5 separate regions of the Homo sapiens genome follow, and regions 1, 2, 4 and 5 are each reported to be linked to region 3. Evidence: microRNA targets listed by miRTarBase, many of them from high-throughput screens and not tested one by one. Region 3 holds a microRNA gene; each other region holds the end of a gene's coding sequence.
What was found. The annotated mature microRNA hsa-miR-139-3p reads UGGAGACGCGGCCCUGUUGGAGU and lies in region 3 at 2,181-2,203, opposite strand. An mRNA with a match to its seed (bases 2 to 7 or 8) in the 3' UTR can be bound and repressed. Matches are read on the target gene's strand: a 7mer-m8 pairs with bases 2 to 8, a 7mer-A1 pairs with bases 2 to 7 and ends in A, and an 8mer does both.

Region 1 (4,976 bases), not on the chromosome of region 3:
GGGCAGGGGTGAGAGCAGGGAGGGCTTCCTGGAGGAGGTGGGTTGCAAAGACACAGGGAAGGACTGGCCAAGCCAAGGCCTGTGAGGGGCAGCGGCTGTGAGTGATGGCCATGGACAACGGGCACAGTGGGGGCCGGGACTGCATGTGGCGGGTCGTCCACGCCGGGCCAGGCCGCAGCACCCTGATTCCCTCTGTCCCCAGGATGGCCCAGCTGAGGCTGGTGCTGGGGCTCCACACCCTGGACAGCCCCGGTCTCACCTTCCACATCAAGGCAGCCATCCAGCACCCTCGCTACAAGCCCGTCCCTGCCCTGGAGAACGACCTCGCGCTGCTTCAGGTGTGCAGGGACGGGACAGGGAGAACTGGGCACCCTCCTGTCCCCCACGGGTGCCCCTCACCCCCACTGCGCCCTCCCCCCGCTGCCGACCCTCCCCCCGCACTGCTGCCCCTCCCCCCGCACTACTGCCCCCTCCCCCATTGCCCACCCTCCCCCCACTGCCACCCCTCCCCCCGCTGCCGCCCCCCGCCCCCGCACTCTCACCCCCTCCCCCTGCTCACCTGCCCCTTCCTGTCACTCGTAGCTGGACGGGAAAGTGAAGCCCAGCCGGACCATCCGGCCGTTGGCCCTGCCCAGTAAGCGCCAGGTGGTGGCAGCAGGGACTCGGTGCAGCATGGCCGGCTGGGGGCTGACCCACCAGGGCGGGCGCCTGTCCCGGGTGCTGCGGGAGCTGGACCTCCAAGTGCTGGACACCCGCATGTGTAACAACAGCCGCTTCTGGAACGGCAGCCTCTCCCCCAGCATGGTCTGCCTGGCGGCCGACTCCAAGGACCAGGCTCCCTGCAAGGTGAGGGGCGCCCGGGTGGGGCTGGGGGAATGAGGCTGGCGGGAGGGCCGGGGCCAGGGCAGCCGCCGGGCAGGTTCCTGGCTCTCCCGTTCTCTGGGGAGTCCTGTCAGGGGCTGGGGGGCGGGGAAGCACTGGCAGGGGTCCCGTTTCTCAGGTGCAGAAACTGAGGCTCAGACAGGTTTAGCAACCTGCGCAAGACCACACAGCCGGGAAGCGGCAGAGCTGTGACTTCTGCTCCAGCCAAGACGGTCCGGCGGGGGAAGAAGGAGCAGGGTTCACAGGGCCAGCGGGAGATGGGGAGGGGACACGCGTGGGCCGGGAGCAGCCCCTGTGTCTCCTTGAGCCTGGGGATAACAGGCCTGGCCCTGCTCCCCTCGGCGGGCCCTGCTCCCCTCGTCCCCTCAGCAGGTGCAGAGGCTGAGCTGCGGTGTGTCGTCCCTGCAGGGTGACTCGGGCGGGCCCCTGGTGTGTGGCAAAGGCCGGGTGTTGGCCAGAGTCCTGTCCTTCAGCTCCAGGGTCTGCACTGACATCTTCAAGCCTCCCGTGGCCACCGCTGTGGCGCCTTACGTGTCCTGGATCAGGAAGGTCACCGGCCGATCGGCCTGATGCCCTGGGGTGATGGGGACCCCCTCGCTGTCTCCACAGGACCCTTCCCCTCCAGGGGTGCAGTGGGGTGGGTGAGGACGGGTGGGAGGGACAGGGAGGGACCAATAAATCATAATGAAGAAACGCTCAGAGCCCGCCTGAGTCCCAGCCCACCTCTGTCCATGCTGGCTGTGGGGCTTCCGACAAACCTGTTTCCCTCAGCCTCCCGAGTAACTGGGTCTACAGGCGCCCGCCACCACGCCAGGCTAACTTTTGGTATTTTTAGTAGAGAAGGGGTTTCTCCATGTTTGTCAGGCTGGTCTCCAACTCTTGACCTTGTGATCTGCCCACCTCGGCCTCCCAAAGTGCTGGGATTACAGGCGTGAGCCACCGCGCCCGGCCCTTCCCTGTTTTAAAAAGGGAGGTTGTGGATCCCAAGGCTTCTCCCAGGAGGGGGCGGCGTTGGCCAGGACTGGAGCGGTGGCCGGGTCTGCAGGCTGGCAGGGGTGGGCGGCCGTCCTCCCCGCGTGGCTCCTGGGGCTGGGCCTTGAACAGCATCCCAGGATCTTCTTTTTTAGTAACAGCTTTTATCAAGTTACAACTCACATAGCAGATGAGTCTCCCTGTAAACTGCGATTCAGGGGCCTTTGGTACCTGCACAGAGCTGGGCAACCACCACCGTGACATGTCACCCCAGCACCCCGAAAACAGGCCCGTCCCCAGTCACCCCAGCACCCCGAAAACAGGCCCGTCCCCAGTCACCCCAGCACCCCGAAAACAGGCCCGTCCCCAGTCACCCCAGCACCCCGAAAACAGGCCCGTCCCCAGTCACCCCAGCACCCCGAAAACAGGCCTGTCCCCTGTCACCCCAGCACCCTGAAAACAGTCCTGTCACCCCAGCACCCCGAAAACAGCCCTGTCCCCACTGTCACCCCAGCACCCCGAAAACAGGCCTGTCCCCACTGTCACCCCAGCACCCCGAAAACAGGCCCGTCCCCACTGTCACCCCAGCACCCCGAAAACAGGCCTGTCACCCCAGCACCCCGAAAACAGGCCTGTCCCCCTGTCACCCCAGCACCCCGAAAACAGGCCTGTCCCCACTGTCACCCCAGCACCCCGAAAACAGCCCTGTCCCCACTGTCACCCCAGCACCCCGAAAACAGGCCCGTCCCCACTGTCATCCCAGCAGCCCGAAAACAGGCCTGTCCCCACTGTCACCCCAGCAGCCCGAAAACAGGCCCCATCTCTATCACCCCAGCACCCCAAAAGGAAGCCCCACCCCCATTGTCATTCCAGCACCCCGAAAATAGACTCTGTCCCCACTGTCACCCCAGCACCCCAAAAGGAGGCTCGTCCCCATCGGCCGTCACTCCCCGTCCCCACCCCAGCCCCGGTGCCCTCACATCCCCTCCCTGTCTCTGGATGGGCCTGTGCTGACATTTCATGGACAGGGGATCACGCTGCGTGGCCTTCTGTGTCTGGCGTCTCCCGCTGAGCGTGACGTCCTCAAGCTGCACCCGCGCGCTGGCTGGGTCCGAGCCGTGCTCCTGCTCCGGGGGGTCGAGCTCCAGCTCGAGGGGGGCCTCGCTGCGTTTGTGGGTGCGTCCCTGGGTGCACATCTGGGCGGCTTCGTCTGCGTCCGTCCGTCTGAAGCTTTGCTGGGAGCCGCCTGTGTGCGTTTTCGTGTGGACCTACCTGCTCCTTCCTCCCTCCAGATTAGACCCGTGGGAGTGGCATCTCGGGCTGTTCAGTGACTCTGTTTCAGCGCCGCGCTGTTTTCCTGCAGAATCTTTTAATTTCACTACCAACTCTTTCTTTCTTTTCTTTTCTTTCTTCCCTTTCTTCCCCTTCTTCTCTTTCCCTCCCTTCCCCTTCTTCTCTTTCCCTCCCTTCCCCTTCTCTCCCCTCCCCTCCCCTCCTCTCTCTTTCTTTCTTTCCTTTCTTTCCTTTCTTCCCCGTCTCCCCTTCCCCTCCCCTCCCCTCTCCTCCCCTCCCCTCTCCTCCCCTCCTCTCTTTCTTTCTTTCTTTCTTTCTTTTCTTTTCTTTTTTTCTTTTATTTTCCTTTCTTTTCTTCTGATGGAGTCTCAGTGCGTCACCCGGGCTGGAGTGCAGTGGCACGATCTCGGCTCACTGCAAGCCATCTCAGGTTCAAGCGATGCTTGTGTCTCAGCCACCTGAGTAGCTGAGGGATCACAGACGTGCACCACCACGCCCAGCTAACTTTTTTTGTATTTTTAGTAGAGACTAATAGAAACACAGGTTTCACCACGTTGACCAGGCTGGTCTTGAACTCCTGACCTCAGGTGACCCGCCCACCTCGCCCTCCCAAAGTGCTGGGATTACAGGCATGAGCCACTGTGCCCACGTTAATGGTTTTTTATTATTTTATTTTATTTTTAGACAGTTCCCACTCTGTTGCCCAGGCTGGAGTGCAGCCTCAGCCTCCCAAGTAGCTGGAATCATAGGGGTCCACCACCAAGCCCAGCTAATTTTTTTGGATTTTTACTAGAGACGGGGTTTCACCATATTGGTCAGGCTGGTCTCGAACTCCTGACCTCAAATAATCCACCCGCCTCGGCTTCCCAAAGTGCTGGGATTACAGGTATGAGCCACTGTGCCCGGCCGGGTTAGTGTTGTAATAGACTTAATTTTTAAAACCATTTTTGGTCTGCAGGAGATGTGTGGCGGCTGTATCCACAGGGTCCCCCGCGTCCCCGCCCCCAGGCTCCTGGCCGCTCCCCTCTCCAGTCAGCAGGAGTCACGGCTGACGAACTCACATGAATGCGTGATTAACTACTAAGGACCTACTCTTGGCTCGGATTTCCTCAGTTTCCCCTAATGTCTCTTCCTGCACAGGGTCCCACCCGGGACCGAACCTGCCGTTTCGCCGCAGCCTCTCCTCGGCACCCCCAGGCTCCGACCGTTTCTCAGAACTCCGTGTCTGGAGGCCGGCTGGACGGGATTTATGTAGATTACGGGTGTGGACCACTGCACCCGCCAGCTATCTCATGTTTTTCTCTCGATTGGACTGGAGTCACAGTGTTTTTGGGAGAGGCAAGTGCATTTTTAATCTTTAACTTTTTTAATTTTTTTATGTTATTTTTTTAGAGACTCCTGGGCTCCAGCAATCCTCCCACCTCAGCCTCCTAAAGGATTACAGGTGTGAGCCACCGCGCCCGGCCTAATCTTTAACTTTTTATGGCATCATTGGCAGTGGAAGGTTCTCAGGTCACAAGTGAAGAGCCTCATAACTCACAAACCAGGCACGCCCCTGTTCCCGGCACCTGGGTCCAGACACAACCCCCTGCCCCGAAGCCCCTCCTTAGCCAAGTACCCAAGTCCAGTCTCTTTTTTTTTTTTTTGAGATTCGAGTCTCGCTCTGTCCCCCAGGCTGGAGTGCAGTGGTGCAATCTCGGCTCACTGCAAGCTCCACCTCCTGGGTTCACGCCATTCTCCTGCCTCAGCCTCCCCAGTAGCTGGGACTACAGGCGCCCGCCACCACGCCTGGCTAATTTTTTAAATATTTTTAGTAGAGACGGGGTTTC
Region 2 (4,976 bases), not on the chromosome of region 3:
AAAAGGTTTAGAAAATCAGAAAATGTGAGATTAGCAATGAAAAGGGAACACTGAATGTTCTTTTTTATTTCCTTTAAAATCAATTTAAATATTAATTTTATTCCAAGCTAAAGTGGAATTTCAAGATAATCACTTCTGCTCTGGTCTTACCTTACGTGCCCCACTGCAATTTCAGGTCTCGAGTCAGAGAACAGACTATTTCCTCTTCCCCTTAATTAACCTCCATCCATTTGCTTGATTGTTTGTGGCTCCTTCTATAAGGGATGGGTGGAGGTGCCTTACAGTGAAAAGACAGGTATACATACACACACACTGTATATATATAGATTGGAAATTCAAAGGCATGACATTCCTGGGAACCAAAAAGCCTGTCCAAAGATTAGCTCCATAGCTAGCTCAAGGGCTTTCAAATGCCAGAAAAGAGAACTAGGGCAGCCAGAAGACTTGGCCCCACAATTCAAGTATTAACACTGAGCAATTCTGTGTTATAATTTGCAGCAGTTAGAGGAAATCCCAAAGTCCACGTTTTTGTTATTTCAGTAAATTTTTTTGGATCTCACTCTGTCACCCAGGCGGGAGTGCAGTGGTGTCACCACGGCTCACTGCAACCTCAGACTCCTGGGCTCAAGCGATCCTCCTGCCTCAGCCTCCTGAGTAGCTGGGACTACAAGTGCACGCCACCATGCCCGGCTAATTTTTAAAACTTTTTTTGCAGACATGGGGTCTCGCTATGTTGCCAGGGCTGGTCTTGAAGACCTCCCAAAGTTTAGTAATCTTATATGAACTGCTTTTACTTTTCTGCATTGTACCCAGAAGGTGATGTTTTACTTAATATTTAGTCAGTTATTTTAACCAGAAACTTTTAATACTAAGCAAGGGGGATTTCTTCCTTTCTATCACAATTATACTACATTCCATGTGGACAACTGTATCTCTGGCAGTTAATTCTAGAGGTGGAAATTAGGGAAGGGGGTAGTATGGAAGCATACAGCATTTACAAAACTGGCAAAAAATAAAATAAGTCAAGGGGAGGCTCAGATTCTTTCTTTGGACAAAGGTGGGCTTTGAGGAAAGATCCTCACTCATCAGAGGCCGAGCCCTACACTAACCACAGTAATTTGTATTGATACCCAATTTAGTTCAGGAGCTATAAAAATGTATGTTTGCGGCCAGGCGTGGTGGTTCATGCCTGTAATACCAGCACTTTGGGAGGCCAAGGCGGGTGGATCACGAGGTCATGAGATCGAGACCATCCTGGCTAACACGGTGAAACCCCATCTCTACTAAAAATACAAAAAATTAGCTGGGCACGGTGGCGGATACCTGTAGTCCCAGCTACTCCAGAGGCTGAGGCAGGAGAATGGCGTGAACCCGGGAGGCGGAGCTTGCAGTGAGTCGAGATAGCGCCACTACACTCCCGCCTGGGAGAAAGAGTGAGACTCCGTCTCAAAAAAAAAAAAAAGTATGTTTGCATTATTGCACATAAAAATTAAAAATTGAGAGCTATTTGTATTCATCTATTGAGAGAAACGGTCTCTGGGGGTTAGGATGGGGACCTGTCCCCATTATAGACCCGTTCTGGTCTATAATTTACCTAAGACGAGAGCAGAAAGGGTTTTAAATGCTGATCCTAAGTTGTCGTCGGAGGGCAGTACCCCAGAGGACAGGGGAATCATTCCTAACACTGGCAGGGGCCAGAGGCTGACAGCTGGCATTGAACACCTGAATGTCAGGATATTACTCGCCTCTCTCTAATTCTTCCCAATAGAGCGGATACACTCTGGACTCCCTGGGGTGGAGCAGCTACATGGGCAGTTTGTACTTGTTCCTCTTGTCTCTTCATCTGCCCATAAGCCCAAGGCACTCAGAGTCTTCCCTCACTGACACCCAGCAAGCCGGTGAACACACCGGCCCACTGCATTGGGAAGCCCTTTCCTTTTGCTAAGGACTGCATTCGTCTATGCTGCATCTTGAGGCTGTGCAGTATCACCTCCCCTCCTCCATGGTTTTTCTTCTCTAGGCCTAGCAGGCAAGGGAGAAGGAGAGATGCCAGAAGCCTCTGTCTTTCCTTCCCCATTCGTTTCTTACTGAGTCTTGGAGTTAAATTGTTAGTTAGTGCCGGGCGTGTGGCTCACACCTGTAATCTCAGCACTTTGGGAGGCAAAGGTGGGCGAATCAACTGAGATCAGGAGTTTGAAACCACCCTGGCCAACATGGTGAAACTCCATCTCTACTAAACATACAAAAATTACCTGGGCGTGGTGGGGGGGCCCTGTGGTCCCAGCTACATGGGAGGCTGAGGCAGGAGAATCACTTGAACCCGGGAGGCAGAGGTTGCAGTGAGCTGAGATCACGCCACTTCCCTCCAGCCTGGGCAACAGAGTGGGAGTCCATCTCAAAAAAAAAAAAAAAAAAAAGAGGAAAGAATGCCAATTCATGATTTAAAAGTAAAATCAAATAGACTCCAGCTGTCAACTTAGCATATTCACAGTAGGTCCAGCACCGCTTATATCTAATGTTTCATAGTTCATAATGGAGTAACATTCATAGTTACTGAAGTTTAGATAAAAGAAGTGTCACCCTCTATGGCAACCCCTCCCCTGAAACACACATGGACTCTAGTCTAGCCATGGGCTCAATACTGTTTTAAGCATTGCTACTACACTACCACCAAATCTCAGTTTCTAACAGGGGGCAAAGAGCATTTTTAGAAGACGCTTAGTAACAGAAAAATTAACCAAGGGAAGAACAATCTTAATTACGGGATATTTTTACTGGAATGTAGACATTACTTTTGAATATATAGGACAATAGAAATTGCATCAAAGCAATGCTGCCTAACAGACACAGCAGGAAACTTATTGGCATGGCCAGGCTAGTATATTTTCTCATTAGTATATCAACTAATTATAGGAAAAGTACTGTTTCTAAAGTGCTTGAAACATTTGCCTACGTCACTGTTCTCTTTTTCAATGACCTCCTTCATAAAGTCAAACTCTAGCCCAAACTTAAGCCCATCTCACTGCATATTGTAAAGAATGGATTCTGAATGAATTAACAGAAATGCTTTTATATAGGAGGTTGCAGAGATTCTCTTGCAGTCAATGTCTAGAGGAGCTGACCCTCAGGCATCACTCAGAGGAAGTCCCAGCCAAGATTCACAGATCTGTATGTAGCCTTCGGTCAATATCACAGTGTACATCAGGAGTCTCAAGTTCATTGCACAGAACTGGTCCTGTAGCAGGGAAGACTCAGAATTCCTGAGTTTTCTCCTTATGGTGACTCCTCAGGGATAGCCACCATCTTAAATCCAGGAATGGGGCCCAGCTGGGAATGGAGAAAGTTGCAGGCCCACATGCTCCCTGGACGGAAGTCACACGGAGCCTCTGTGCGGGCACCTGAGAAGCTGCCAGAACACCTGCCCAGCAGCAGTGCATCCTCCCCACTCAGTGTCCATCTGCCATCTAGACATGGAGGAGGAAAAGAAAAGAGACAAATATGAACACACTTTGGTTTTCCCACTGTGCATCTCTATGCACAGCTCACACGCACACCCATGGGAGGAGGCGAGGGGGAGCAGCATGGAAGCTCAGCCACCCCTCTGTGTGTGGCCAGGGCAGCCATCACTGGTCCTGCTCTTTTCCTGGGAAGGCATCCCCCATGCTACCTGGAGGTACAGGGTTAGTCATGCCTTTCACCGCTGAGTGTGCTCTGCTGAGCCAAGGACAACCTCCACCCACACTCCCTTTGACTCCCCTCATCCCCAGCTGTTCTTCGTGACTCTGACCCATCCTCCCCTCCATTCCAGTCATTTCTCAAAAATGACACCCTCACATACCACACCGCTGAGAAGGAGAGGAATGTGAGAATGATCACAACAGCCAGGGAACCCAGTCCAACACCCGCCATCTGCAGCAGCATGAGTGACGAATCTGTGGGACAAAACCACAGGCTTAGCCCAGAGTGCACGGCATCACCACCTCCCAGGAGGCACACACCCCACTGTGCTCAATCCATTTTAACCCAGAGCTTGGCCCCATTTAACAAAGAATCCCAAGAATGCCCAACATGCCTGTGTGTCCCCTGAGTTGGCCCTGTGGATATGCAGCCTCAGGAAATTACAGTTACAAGGTATTTCTGAAAAGGAAGTGTAAAGCCAGACCATGTTAAAGTTACAAGGGAGAAAACAGCTAATCTTGTTGAGCACACAAATACTATGCAACGTGTTACATTTTTTGTTGGTCCTCTCACAATCAATTACATTTGATAGATTTTTATGGGCCGTTTTCTTTTGCATGGAGGGACAAGTCATTATGATATTATTTGAATTTGGTTTCCAAAACTGATAGCCCTGATGGTCAGATAGAGCAAAGGAATATCCTTTGTTGAGTCACCTGTCATTTTCTCCATACCTCAACAAGGGTCATACTTCCCTGCTCAGGTCAGCAGGTTTACTGAGAGGATAAAAGTACTTTGAAAGACATACTTTCTATTTGGGGACCATCACATGCCAACTCCAGGGAGATCCCCGATTATAAACTAAAAAACACTCACAGTTGAGTTGCACATGTGGGCCAAGTGACTGACTTAGAGAATCATGTTCTAGATTAGAGCAAAAATTTCATTTTAATTTGCAAACACTTACTTAGCACTTACTATGTGCCAGACACTGTTCCAAGCACCTCACAAATATTCACTCATTTAGGCTTCTAACCAGCCTTCACATTGGGTACTATTATTATTCCCTTAAGGAACCAAGGTGGGAGTGGCTAAGTACAACTCAGGTCTTTACAGCCAGGTTAAGAGGAGTGCATTTCTATTGGAAACTCAGTACAGTACCTGGCACTAGTAAAACCAGCCATAGAATACACCTTGTGTTAAACAGCCCTGCAGAACTTGAAACCGCCTTTTTAAAAATTATAACCGAGAAAATTATAACCGTGAAAAAGATCTGACCTGACTGACTCCATCTTGCT
Region 3 (3,000 bases):
GAGTCAGGCCTCCTCTGAAGCCAGGGTTGGGGCTCAGCCGTGGGCTAGATCTGCATTTCTGCACTTATCTGGGGAGAGGAGAGGGTCTGGACTAAATTACTTCTAACTCGTTCTTAAAGCCTAAGATTCTATGAAACCAGAGACCTTGGTCTTATCCCCTTTGGAGCCACAAGCACAAGACCAACGCCCTTCCTGAGGGTTGGGGTCGCTGCCATAAGATCTTTCCTGTTTCATCTTCATGAGTCTCTATGCCTTTCCCCATCTCCACAGGTCCTCCTATGGCTCACCCCACTGCCTGGCACTGGCTCCATGCCTCCTTCTCTGGAAGGAAGCCTCACAGTGCCCCTCACACTGGCCTACAGGAAGGCAATAACATCAAACTCAAGAGTCAAGTACCTCCCAAGGTCCGGCTGTGCTCTTGGGACTGTCCGTTCACACTGATTCATGCAACTCTGCTTGTGTTAGGTCCTCTGTGAGGCCCTCCTCTCTCTCTGGGCCTTGGTGTCCCCTTCTGTAAAGGGAAGGGTCCTTCTAGATCCCCCAGGACCTCGGAGCCCTCTCATTCTCTGTCCATCATCCCTTCCCTTCCTTTCGGGTGGACCTCCCTGCCTTCCTCCCTGCCTCCCCCGGCCGACGTCCACCTCTGTCCCAGGCTGCACTCCTGTTCCTCTCCAGGAGTCTTGACGTCTTTTCCCACCTCCGCGTCCTCTCTTCCTCTCATAGCTTCTCCTCCCACTCTCCATCTCTCTCCTGCATACTTCCTGCCCCCACCTACTCCTGTGTCTCCAGCCCACTCCTCCCACAAACCTCCAAATAGTCACCTTGAGAACACTGGGAGAAAGCACCTAACTCAAGAGAAGCGCCCACAGAATGGGAAACCCAGGAAGGCAGCTAGAGGGGAAACAGGGGGTGCCAGGCAAGTGTCATCTACGCCTCTTTTGCTTCCTGCCTCCTGTTCCGGTGGGCAATATACACAGCCTCTTATCTTCCCAGAGGACAGGGCCCTTCAAGAGCACAGGAGAACGTATCGACCTCTGTGCCTAGCATGGGTCTGGCACTAGCAAGCACAGCCGCCCAGTCAGGGTGACTGGCAGAACTGCCCCAAAGGAGGCATCCTGTAGGCTCAGACCAGAGAAGCCCGCTTCAGCTGAGCCTCGGCCCCTGGCCTCAGCCCAGCACCCAAGCTGACTCTATGCCTCCTCGCAGCCTTACAGCACCCCCAGCCTGCAGAGTCAGAGACAAGAAAGCAGAACAAGGCGGTTCCTCCTCCTTCCTCCCCACACACCCACGCCTGCCACCTGGCCAAGGAGACGCCTCTCAAAGACACTGGTGCCTTGGATGTGCAAAGAGGAACTGCCTGTGAGTGCGAAGATCTTGCAGCCCCAGACTTCTCTCAATGAGGCTGAGCTGGATCAGGGTGAGGAGAATAGAGGAAAGAGGCTTGGCAACCCTTGGGAGGCTTAGTCTGAAGGAGGAGGCAAGACAGAGACCCAGAACGCAGCTGAACTAGCCCAACTGTCAGTGTCATGCTTGAGTGAGGCATCAGGCTTTGGGGAGGGGAAGGTACCTTTCCCAAGCACCTCCTGTGGCTAGAGGTTTCCACCAGCCGTTCCCCAATTTTCATGTGCACCAGAACCACCCAGAGTGCTTGTTAAAGTGCAGATTGCTGGCCCCACCCCCAGGGTTTCTGATACAGTAGGTCTGGGACGAGGTCCAAGAACTTGCGTTTCCAAACATTCCTAGATGACACTGATGCTGCTGGTCGGGGGACCACACCTCGAGACCCACTGACACTATCTTGGATCCTCCTACAAGCCCAAGAGGTGCCTGTTTGGGTCATCCCATTGTACAGGTGAAGAGGCTAAGGACTGGAGGGGAGGGGCCTTGCTCAGGTGAGAACAGCCAATGAGGGGACGCCCCAGGGAAGGTCCCAATGGAGGGGAGAGGCTGGGGGTGGAAGGACAGAGGGAGACTAGTGGTGGGGAGATATGGATAACAAGGCAGTATGGACGGGGCCACTCGCAGCGCAGGAGCCCAGTCTTAAAGGAGGGACCTGCCAGAGACCTTTCCTCCTCCCTCTTTCTCTTCCTCCCCTCCCTCCTCTACTTACCCCCTCCCGCTCCATGCCCCCATCCCTCCACCCTCCTGCCCACCCTTCGCAGACTCCGGCTTCAGTTGTTACTCCAACAGGGCCGCGTCTCCAGCCTCCGAGCCACACTGGAGACACGTGCACTGTAGAATACACCTGAGCCAGTCCCAGTGCCTCCCAAGGGTGTCCCCATCCACAGGAGCCTGACCCCACACTGTTGGCTCCTCCCTTCCAGCGCCCACAACCAGCTCCGCCCCGGCCTCTCGCCCTTCCCAAGCCAGTCCCAGCTTCTATTCCAGCTCCTGCCTCCTCCAAAATGACCTCCCGGTTGTCCCCCGCACCCTTGGATCCATCAGGAGCTAGGTTTGGGGGTGGATGAAGGAATGGGAAGAGGGAAAGAGCAGGAGAAGGCAGGCAAGAGTTGCCTGCACGATCAGTTCCCTGAGGGCCTGACTCACTGGAATCACCTCAGTCCCTCACCCAGAGTCTGGAGTCAGGAAAGGAGGGAACAGTCAGAGTGGGTAGAGGGAGGGAGGCAGGAGCTGAGTGTGGGGAGGGGGAGGATGGCCCTGCAAGGCAGACATCAGATCAAGCGGGGCAGAGCCAGCTCAGGTCTCCTCCCACCCCCTCCCACCTTCAGCTGCTTCATCTACAGGGAAGAACCGAGAGTGGTCCCATTTCTGCTGCCCACATTCTCCTGGACACCACAAACTTCCTCCCAAACACATCACAGCATCCCCCTCTCCATGCCATCACAGTCATCCTGGTCACCTGGCATTCTAGCTATCCTTGTCCTCTGGCCTGGGGCCCACGAGGCAGCTCGCGGCAGTCACAAGGAGGCAGATTTGGGCACACTGTGAATCAGAGTCGCGCCACAAAAGAGAGCCTGAGCAGGATGGATGAGGGGGCTC
Region 4 (4,976 bases), not on the chromosome of region 3:
ACAAAGTGAGACCCTGTCTCAAAAAAAAAAAAAAAGAAAGAAAGAAAAAAAAGAATGGCTTACTCTACCTAAGCTGTTTGTATAAAAAAGTGGGCCAGGAGCGGTGGCTCATGCCTGTAATCCCAGCACTTTGGGAGGTCGAGGCAGGCGGATCACAAGGTCAAGAGATGGAGACCAGCCTGGCCAATATGGTGAAACCCCGTCTCTACTAAAAATACAAAAATTAGCTGGGCGTGGTGGTGGCAGGCGCCTGTAGTCCCAGCTATTCAGGAAGCTGAGGCAGGAGAATTGCTTGAACCCAGGAGGCGGAGGTTACAGTAAGCCGAGATCACGCCACTGCACTCCAGCCTGGCGACAAAGCGAGACTCCGTCTCAATTAAAAAAAAAAAAAAAAAGGTGGTTTATGCTGAGCCCCTGCTTTCCTTTTGGGAGCCTGGGATTTGGGTAGGTGCCAGGCAGGGGGTGCCTATGTGACCATGCCCCAATAAAAACTTGATACCAGCCAGGTGCTCACGCCTGTAATCCCAGCAGTTTGGGAGGCTGAGGTGGGAGGATCACTTGAGGTCAGGAGTTCAAGATCAGCCTGGCCAACATGGTGAAACCCCATCCCTACTAAAAATACAAAAATTAGCCGAGCTTGCTGGTGCGCGCCTGTAGTTCCAGCTATTCGGGAAGCTGAGGCCCGAGGATCGCTTGAACCCAGGAGGTGGAGGCTGCAGTGAGCCAAGATCATGCCACTGCATTCCAGCCTGGGCGTCAGAGCAAGACCCCCCCCCCCCCGCCAAAAAAAAACCAAAACAACAACAACAACAAAAAAAACCTCTGGGTGCTGAGTCTCTAATTGAGCTTCCTTGGTCAGCAACATTTCGCATGTATTGTCACAACCCATTACTGTGAACCGAGCACATCTTGTGTGACTCCAATGAGAGAGAAGCCCTGGAAACTTGTGCCTGGGTCTCTCTGGGAGTTGGTCCTGCACACCATTTCTTTTTGCTGATTTTGCTCCATATCTTTTTGTTGTAATAAGTCAATCGTAGCCATGAATACAACCACATACTGAGTCTTGGGAGTCCTCCTAGCAAATCACTGGGCTTGGGGCTGGTATTGAGGACCATGACACACACACACATACATGACCTTTACCATGGGAACAATCCAGCTCACTGATGTCCCTATCTCACCACCATGTACCCTGAGGTCTATTAGATGGAAGTGCCAGTTAGAAATGCTTGGGGTGCAAGTAACCACACTGTCAAATAACTGGACTGAACAAACGGGAGATTATTTCCCTCCAACAAGACTGTTGGTGCGAGTTCAGCAGCTCAGCAATGCTGGGCCAAGCTGGAGTCTCTACCACGCTGTGGACTGACCCTAAGGTCCCAAGATGTCAGTCGCAGTTCCAGTCAACGCATATGTGGCAACAAATGGAGCTGAGAAGGAAGGGAGGGGCCGGAGCAAGAGCCTCTTTGCTGCTTCAGGTAACTTTGACATTTTCTGGTGACGCAGGCCACTGATAAGTGATTTTGGTTATTTACCCCCATCAATACTCAAAGCTTTTTCTCCTCTCTTGGGGCTCCCCTCAAATACTTAACATCACTTTTTGGTCTCTGAGCTGTTCCAGGGCTGGAATTTGTACCCTGGATGGGGCTGGGAGGAGACAGGGGTGGTCTGAGGGATGGAGATTCCGCCACACAGCAGGAGGCCCCAGGTCAGCCTTAACTTCCCGTTGCTCCTGCACCAGCTTGGGGCTCCAGGACTCAACACCTCTGCTCCCTGCTTTTAATAAACAACACAATGCACAGAAGGGTTGGGAATATCGCCCCCTGAGGAGGCAGCAGAGTCCTGCAGCCTAACATAGTGAACCCCCTGGGGGTCCGACCCAACATTCCCCCGCCAACTCCTCCACTGTCACTACCCTGGTGCAAGTCCCCATCACTGCGCTCAGAGGGGTCTCCTGCTGGGTCCCCTGCTTCTACCCCCACCCCCAATCTGTCCCCTTCAGCAGCCAGAGGGAGCCTCTATGACCAAGTCAGATCATGTTCCTCCTCTGCTTGACACCTTCTGGTCACCCCCACTCAGAAAAAAAGCCAAAGTCCTAACTGTGGCCCATGAAGCATCTGGCCTGTCTGACCTCATGTACTGTCACACTCTGGTCCAGCAAGACTCTGGCATACACAATGATCCTTCTGGAGCGCTCCAGCCTCAGTGCCTTTAGGCTGGCTTTCTCTCTGCCTGGAATGTTCTCCCCCTACACTATGACTCCCACTCACTTCATTCAGGTCTTTAAATGTCACCCTGAGCCAGGCGTGGTGGTTCATGCCTGTAATCCCAGCACTTTGGGAGGCTGAGGCGAGTGGATCGCTTGAGCCCAGGAGTTCAAGACCAGCCTGAGCAACATGGCGAGACCCCGTCTCTACTAAAAATACAAAAATTACCCGAGTGTGGTGGCACACACCTGTAGTCCCAGCTACTTGGGAGGCTTAAGTGAGGATCACTTGAGCCCTGGAGGTTGAGGCTGCAGTGAGCTATGGTCATGCCACTGCATTCCAACCTGGGTGACAGAGTGAGACCCTGTCTCAAAAACAAAAAAGTCACCCTGTCAGGATCATCTTCCCTGATGCTGTCACCATAAAGAGCCCACTCCCCCAACTTCTGCAGCTCTGTCTCCCATCCTTGCTTTATTTTCTTCATACCACTCATCATTAGCTGGCCTGTTCCATGTTTTTATCTACTGTCTCCGCTATGATGCAAGCCCAATGAAGGCAGGCATTTCCATCAGTTTAGGTCAGAGCAGTATCCCCAGTGCCTAGAACAGTTCCTGGCACACGGTCAGGGCTCACTAATGTCTATCGAATGCATAAGTGTGTAAAACAGTTAAGGCAGGGCCTGTAACCCAGCAGACATTCAATCAATGCTTGTGGAATGAATGAATCCGTCGATGCATGAATGCACAAATGAGTCAATGAACCCCGTTCCACCGTGTTCCTGGAGCTGCCCGCTGCCCTCTGCCCTGTCCGTCCCCGGCAGAGCTGGGAGCCGGCCCTCAGCATGACCACCGAAACTTTATTTACAACACGAGGCTGGAGTAAGAGGGGTGGGATGGAGGACAGCAGCAGGGCCGACAGGACCCTACTTCTGCTCCCGCCTCCAGACGATGACCATGCCGCTGGCGTCACTGGAGGCCAGTAGGCTCTCGTCGCAGTTGAAGCTGACATCAAGCACAGGTGCACTGTGGCCCTGCAGCTTGTTGACAGCAGCCTTGGCCGCCCGCTCCACATCAAAGAAGTGCACGCACATGTCCTCACTGCCCGTCACTGTCGGGGTGAGAGGGAGAGGCCATCGGGAGGCGCCTGGGGTGCCCCTGGTGGGAAGTCCCTGAGGTGTCTGAGGTGTTGAAGGGTGTATGTCCGAGGTGTGAGGTCCTAGCATGGCTTGGGGAGGTTTGAGGGGGCCCCATCCCTAGATGGGAGGTCACCTGGCTGTTTTGGTACTGTGTGCAGAATGCGAGGTCTCTGGGCTGTTTGGGGAGTTAGTGCGTTCAAAGTGTGAGTTTTCATCACTTCTCGGCCTTTTGGCCGAGATCAAGTGCAAACTGTGAGTTCTCTGAGCTGTTTGGAGCTGTGAGTTCCACAGTGAGGCTGTTGGGGCAGGAGGGGTCATGAGGTCCAGGAAGTCAGGGCATCGGTGTCGTGATGTCTGAGCCAGGTTGGCACCAGCCCTGGTTCCTGCCCCTCCCCAGCCACCCAGATCCCCTGTCCCTACAGGACTCACCCACGCAGGCCCCCTGGCGGAAGGACATGAGGGGACAGAAGATGCTGCGCACAGGATGTGAGCTCTGCTCGATGGGGAAGCTTCTCTTCAGCTGCAGGGTCCCCTCGTTGTCTACCACCCTGAGAGGATGAGAGAGTGGGTCAAAACACAGCCCCAGCCCTAGCAGGGAGACAAGTTGTGGGCCTGTGTCCCCACCCCTGTGCCTAAGTTCTTTACAGGGTTCATGAAACCCATATTTTTTTTTTTGTTTTTGAGACAGGATCTCACTCTGTCACCCAGGCTGGAGTGTAGTGGTGCGATCACGGCTCACTGCAGCCTCAACCTCCTAGGCTCAAGTGATCCTCCCGCCTCAGTCTCCCGAGTAGCCGGGACTACCTATAGGCACACACCACACCCAGCTTATGAAACCCAATTCTGAGATGACTACATAAACTATAAGTAGGGGCTGATGTGTGAGTTACTGATGGTTCAGAAACTGTCTCTGTTGATATAAATGGGAGCCTCTGCAGTTTCATTCACTAGTTTTTCTTTGTAAGGGTCTCTAAAAGATCCTGGTATTAAGATAAGCACAAAGAGAGGAAATGAACACACCATGGTATGCCCACACTGTGGAAAACTGCACAGCCCTTAGAGAGAATAAAACACTGTCCCCACAGGTAACCTGGGGGGGTTTCCACAAGGCATTGCCTGGTGAGAAACTCGAAATGTAGGAAAGGCCATTTCTTTTTTCTTTCTTTTTTTAAGAGATGGAGTCTGGCTCTGTCACCCAGGCTGGAGTGCAATGGCACGATCTCGCCTCGCTGCAACCTCCGCCTCCCAAGTTCAAGCAATTCTCCAGCCTCAGCCTCCCAAGTAGCTGGGATTATAGGCGCCTGCCACCATGCCCAGCTAATTTTTGTATTTTTAGTAGAGACGGGGATTCACCATGTTGGCCAGGCTGGTCTTGAACTCCTGACCTCAGGTGATCCACCCGCCTTGGCCTCCCAAAGTGCTGAGATTACAGGAGTGCGCCACTGTGCCTGGCCGGAAAAGGCCATTTCTTTAAAACGTCTTTCTTTCAAAACTGTGGTGGGAGCTAGGCAAGGTGGCTCACGTCTGTAATCCCAGCACTTTGGGAGGCCAAGGTACAAGGATCACTTGAGGCCAAGAGTTTAAGACCAGACTGAGTAACACAGCAAAACCTCATCTCTACAAAAAATAGATTA
Region 5 (4,976 bases), not on the chromosome of region 3:
TCCATTACAAACAATTGTTTTCTAATGCGCTTAAGACATAACACTCTATCAAAAAATATTTTAAACACACCAATAAATATTAGGCATGTATGTCCATTAAAAACCATTAAAGAGTCCTGTGGCAATCCTTAAAACAATGAAAAACTTTTGAGTTCAAAATTGCTCAGATATTTTGTATTCAAATATTTTTAAAATTTACTTAAGAGTTTTCTAAAAAATAGTACTATCATTTGCACACAGCAGATCAATAGGTGTCAGTCACCAGCTTAAGTTACACTTGTCAATATTCAAACTTGAATAAAATAAACACACATCACAACAGCGACACTTTGCACTATCAACAATGAAGCTTGCCCTCAACAATTATGACGTTACTGGTTTTAGTAACATAAAAATACATTGCTGGTTGACAGGAAGGATAAAAATGACATCAAGAATCTCAAAAAGTTATGTGAGGTGCCGGTCACCACATTTAGGCACTCAGGAATTAAAAATCAAATAAAAGCATAGCGAGGTGATGAATTTCCTCCTGGCTTCCCCCTCTACTTGTGCCATATGAGATAAAAGAGAAGGCAAGAGAATGAACGAAGATCATGAGATTTCTTTCAAAAACTATACACAAGCTAAGCTACAGACTTCACTTCAGAGGAGTAAGTGGATGCCTCATTATAAAGGCCACTATGCCAAGTTTCTTTTCACATTCTGTGACAAAGTACCCATGAAATACTTTCACTTTCCTATTAGTATACCAGTCAACTATATTAGATGTTGCTTCACATTTTAAAAGTTGTCACATAGGTTTTTACCAAAGGGCAAAAATAAAGATTTTTTACATCTTATTTCACAGACTAGAAATGGCATAATTTTTGAATAGTCCAGATGAATACCATATTGAATTCAAGATGGACAATCAGATCCAAAATGGAATCAGATAGCCCATGTAATCCAAAGAAGCATTTATGTGAGTTCAAGTATGCTAAAGTAACAAGGCATAGGAGAGAAAAATGTCAAGAATCTCAGTTAAAATAAATGAATGGTGTCAGTGGTTATGTTTCAGTGGTGTGCTGAGCAGTTATCCTCCCAGTTAAGCCAAATTTCAAAATCCTCTGGAAAACTATCTAGATAAGCTGTATGTCGAAATTGCATTCTAATATGGCCATTGGGTTTATTTTTCATTATTATAAAACTATATACAATAGTAAAGTTGTACAAATACATTTTTTCCAGGTGCTAGTTAGCTATAAAAGTTAACAATATATTTTTGGGAAGAAAACCCTATGCATCTGAAATACAATTGGCAATGGAAGCTAATAACCAAAAGATATGTCTAAGCTTCCTATCACAAATATAATTTAACACTCTCCATCTTCTAAGGAATTATTCATTTTTATTTACTCATGTGACAGTGTTTGTACAATGCATTATCATTGAGTAGTGAATAAAAGACTGAGGCTTACTAGAAAACTGGCATCAAGTTATATATATGTGTGTATATATATATCATATTATTTCTTTTAACAAGAACACTGAAATTGAAGTCACAACACTCCTATACGGACTACTAAACTTGAAATACTCATTTCAGAAAGCTATGCCATTTGAATTCTAGGAACGCAAGAGTCAAAATTGTAACTCTCATTATTCTCCTAAAAAGCTGCCAAGCAGAGATAAGCTTTAGTATTAAAGATTTCACATGTCAAGTTCCAGCCCAGTATGGATCGTTTCATGGCAGAATACTTAAATTTGAAATAATAGTGGTACAAAAACACTACTTGACCCTTTAGGTATTGCAGTAAAAGCTGGCTGTGGCACTGCTGGCTAAAAACTATTAAGTTTTCCTGCCACAAATGACCAAAGGCACTTGGATAATCAAGAATTCCACACTGGGCCATATGGTATAAACACTATAAAAGCGTAAAGAAGGGTCAGTATTCTGTGTGTCTCGCCTGTTTGATTCCTGTGGTCTTCAGCTGTCAAAGACCTAGAACTGCAAACATATAATGAGTGGCAAAAAGGTTAAAAAAAATGTTGGGACAAAAAAATCAACTAAAAATCAACTAATTTTCATTATGTTTGTAAAACTGATGAATATTAGTCTAGACATTTCTTGTTATCCAACAACAAAAACAAAAAGGAAATAGATTTCGCCCAAAGTAACCTTAACCAGTTATTTGATACCAAGAAATGCCTCCACCCCTCTTGATCATTAATAGTTCTAAGAATTCTAATGGGTATTCTGTTTATCATTTTAGTGATAATGTTTACACACATCCATCTCTCCTATGCAACTCCCATTTTAAAATACATTATCCTTGTAAAATACATTACAAGGATAATGTATTTTAAAATACTTTAACGCATAATATTCCTAGATTTGTATGTTAGACCAGGACAGGGGGCCAAATCATCTCCAGTCGGATTCCAGTGACTCCTGTAACCAAAACCAGTTCTTCACAATTTATTCATTTTTTTTAATCACACACCATATGGTTTCAATGCATTTTTTTATTCAATTCAAAAGAATTTAACAAGTTAACTTTTCCTAAACAAAAGTTTTCATGTGTATTCTACCATTTTTAGGAGCTCAGTAAATATAAACATTGTTTCAATACAAAACCTTTAAAAATACCTTGAAAATGTTTAAACAGTTGTATTTTGCATGTCTTTGTTTGTAATCACTGAGCCCATACAAATCCTTGCACTACTAACAGTCACAAGCTTGAACCTCTTAAAAAATATCCTCGATCAAAGCTTTGGAATCCAGTAAAAATTAGGAAACGAGTGGGCTTCAGAATACCCTGAGCACAAACTAGTGCAACACCACATGTTCGAACTTCTGTCCACAAAGAGGGGTGACAGTGAAATAGAAAAAGGGGGAGATAAAGAACAAGTAAATTCTGGCTTTATTACACAAGCACGAAACCAAATTCCTTTGGAAAAATAATGTCTTCGGAGGACTTCCAGACCAGTGAGGTAGAGTCCAACAGTGAGAAAACGGATCTGCCCCTAAGGTCCTGGAGACGTCTCAATCGGTGGTCAGGAAGAAAGGGACCTCCCCTGCGGGTCCAGCTGTCCCCTCCCTCCGCAGGCCGGGTACGGGAGGCAGCAGAGGGCACACCTGCCCCAGCGTCCAAGACGACCGCGCCGCGGCCCGGGACAGGGACAACCATCCGGCAACTTCTTCGCGCGTAAAGTGCATTGGGGGCCGGGGTCCTGGCCGGATCTGTAAACACTCGACTGACACTTGTTCATTCCTCCGGGCGGAAGGCCTGTCCCAAGGTCGGGGCCGGCAGGAGGCGCCCTGGAGGCCGCACCTCATGCCCGGGGCACCGGGAAGCGGCGGAGCCTCACCATGGGTTCCAGGTTCACTCGCAGGACCTGGCGCGCCCTGCGCCGCGCTGCCGCCAGGCTGCGCTCGCCCCACACGTCGCTGCCGACGCGGATGGTGGGGAAGGTGGTCAGCGTCGGGGTGGCCGCCCTCCAGATCTCCTCCAAGGTGCGGCCCCCGAAGCAGGGCCCGGGGGCCACGGGCTTGGCCGGGCAGCTCTCCTCGGGGGGCGGCGGCGGTGGGGGTGGCGGCCGGGGCTTCCTCCTGCGGGCAGCGGCCGCCCGGGCTCCGCGGCGCCTCCTCCTGGCCGCTGCGCGCGGAACCGGCCGGCGCGCCTGGCCGCGGGCTGTAGGGGGCCCCGGGGGGTCGGGTACCAGGGCCCGGCAGGAGGAGTAGCCGTAGACGTCCTTGCTGCGCAGGATGTGCGGGGAGAACTGGTGCTTGAGGCTGCAGAGGAAGCTCCAGAGCTCCGCGTCCGAGCTCATGAACTCCGTGCTGCGGGGCATGAAGAGCTTGAAGGCGTCGCCCAGCGCCTTGGTGCTGTCAGCCAGCGACAGTTGCGACCGCGAGTACACCACCTTCTCCTCCCGCGCCTCCAACCCAGCCCCGTCTTCTGCCCTAAAGTCGCCGCCCCGGGCGGCCGTGGCCGGGGCGACCGGGCGCCGGCGCCGCCGCCTCTTCATACTGCGCCGCATCGAAGGCCGCTCCGGGCCACTCACGCTCGCCGGGTCCCACTACTGCCGCCGCCGTCCCAGTCCGCGTTGGCTCCGCGGCGGCGGCTGCTGCTGGCGTCTCTCGCTACTTTTCTCGCCTCCGCCGCCGCCCCTCCCCCTCCGAGGGCGGAGGACGCGGGCGAATATCCTGCTGCCCGGTACAAGATGGCGGCCGGCGCCCACCCCTGGGCTTTGTCATTGGACGGCGCCTCGCCCCCCTGGTTTCTCTTTCTTCTCCTCTCTTGCCTCTTTTCGCCGGCTGCCTTTCTTTAAATGTGCCCGCCTCAGGCCCCTCCCACCGCAGCCCCGACTCCACCCATTGGGTGCTCTCAGAAGAGGGGCGGGGACTGATGGGGGAGAGGCCAGTTCCTGGAAGATGGTGCTGGGGTGGGTGATGGCCTTTGAACGTAAGTCAACGGTTGGGTGGATCTAGGAGGGCTGCCACGTCTAGAGTAAGAGGGTGGATGTTGGCTACACCATGGGAAGAGTGACTCTTAGAGTGAGGGGGTGTGCAGTTGTGGATTGAGCTGGGAGCTCTACCAGTGTGGATAACAAAGGGAGATTTCCCTGAAGGATGTTCCTGGTATCATCACAGCTAGGGAATTTGGGTTTAAGTCTAGGGGAAATGGGCCTTTCGCAATTCCCATCCACCCTCTCAAAGGCCTCTTCTGGCATCTTCATTCAAAACTCTTCCCTGTCTTGACCCCAGCCCATCTCAAGAAGCCAGTAGTAATCCAGAATCATTCAGGTAATGTGCGTGGCTGGCAGCTGAGAGATTTTAGTCTCCCTCTGGACACTGGAGCCATCTTCATATTTAAGAGAGACCCTGCTTATCCAGAAAGCAAAACATGTCATACCCTATAAAACTAAATACTCTTTGCTCAAGTTGATCAAAGATCTATTACAATAAAGCCATTCTGTGAAAAGAAAATATA

Region 1: the mRNA of GZMM is a reported target of hsa-miR-139-3p. Seed matches in the 3' UTR shown: 7mer-A1 at 1,482-1,488.
Region 2: the mRNA of SUSD1 is a reported target of hsa-miR-139-3p. The part of its 3' UTR that is shown has no 7-base or 8-base seed match.
Region 4: the mRNA of WDR13 is a reported target of hsa-miR-139-3p. Seed matches in the 3' UTR shown: 7mer-A1 at 169-175.
Region 5: the mRNA of CCDC71L is a reported target of hsa-miR-139-3p. Seed matches in the 3' UTR shown: 8mer at 3,016-3,023.

The regions. Positions count from the first base shown.
Region 1 is chr19:548,340-553,315 of GRCh38, forward strand. GZMM (granzyme M) reads left to right here. Exons shown (of 5, transcript NM_005317.4): 3 at 203-338; 4 at 583-846; 5 at 1,291-1,583. The coding sequence ends at 1,452. Among named protein-coding and RNA genes, the nearest start is that of GZMM, 6.8 kb to the left of the region's middle.
Region 2 is chr9:112,038,029-112,043,004 of GRCh38, forward strand. It overlaps SUSD1 (sushi domain containing 1), which reads right to left. Exons shown (of 17, transcript NM_022486.5): 16 at 3,839-3,932; 17 at 2,755-3,464. The coding sequence ends at 3,464. It overlaps LINC02977 (long intergenic non-protein coding RNA 2977), which reads right to left and starts at 2,396. Exons shown (of 3, transcript NR_186812.1): 1 at 151-2,396. RefSeq lists enhancers at 3,004-3,643, 3,039-4,238, 3,644-4,282, 4,394-4,443, 4,534-4,603.
Region 3 is chr11:72,612,886-72,615,885 of GRCh38, forward strand. MIR139 (microRNA 139) reads right to left here and starts at 2,245; the gene lies at 2,178-2,245. All of the region lies in intron 2 of PDE2A (phosphodiesterase 2A), which reads right to left. LOC105369377 (a long non-coding RNA gene) reads left to right here. Exons shown (of 4, transcript XR_001748292.2): 2 at 1,207-1,417; 3 at 1,744-1,852. RefSeq lists an enhancer at 1,153-1,252.
Region 4 is chrX:48,603,186-48,608,161 of GRCh38, reverse strand. WDR13 (WD repeat domain 13) reads right to left here. Exons shown (of 10, transcript NM_001347217.2): 9 at 3,772-3,890; 10 at 1-3,314. The coding sequence ends at 3,130. Among named protein-coding and RNA genes, the nearest start is that of WDR13, 8.2 kb to the right of the region's middle. RefSeq lists a silencer at 1,727-2,021.
Region 5 is chr7:106,656,874-106,661,849 of GRCh38, forward strand. CCDC71L (coiled-coil domain containing 71 like) reads right to left here and starts at 4,285. Exons shown (of 1, transcript NM_175884.6): 1 at 1-4,285. The coding sequence starts at 4,023. The coding sequence ends at 3,316. RefSeq lists an enhancer at 3,059-3,108 and a silencer at 3,459-3,728.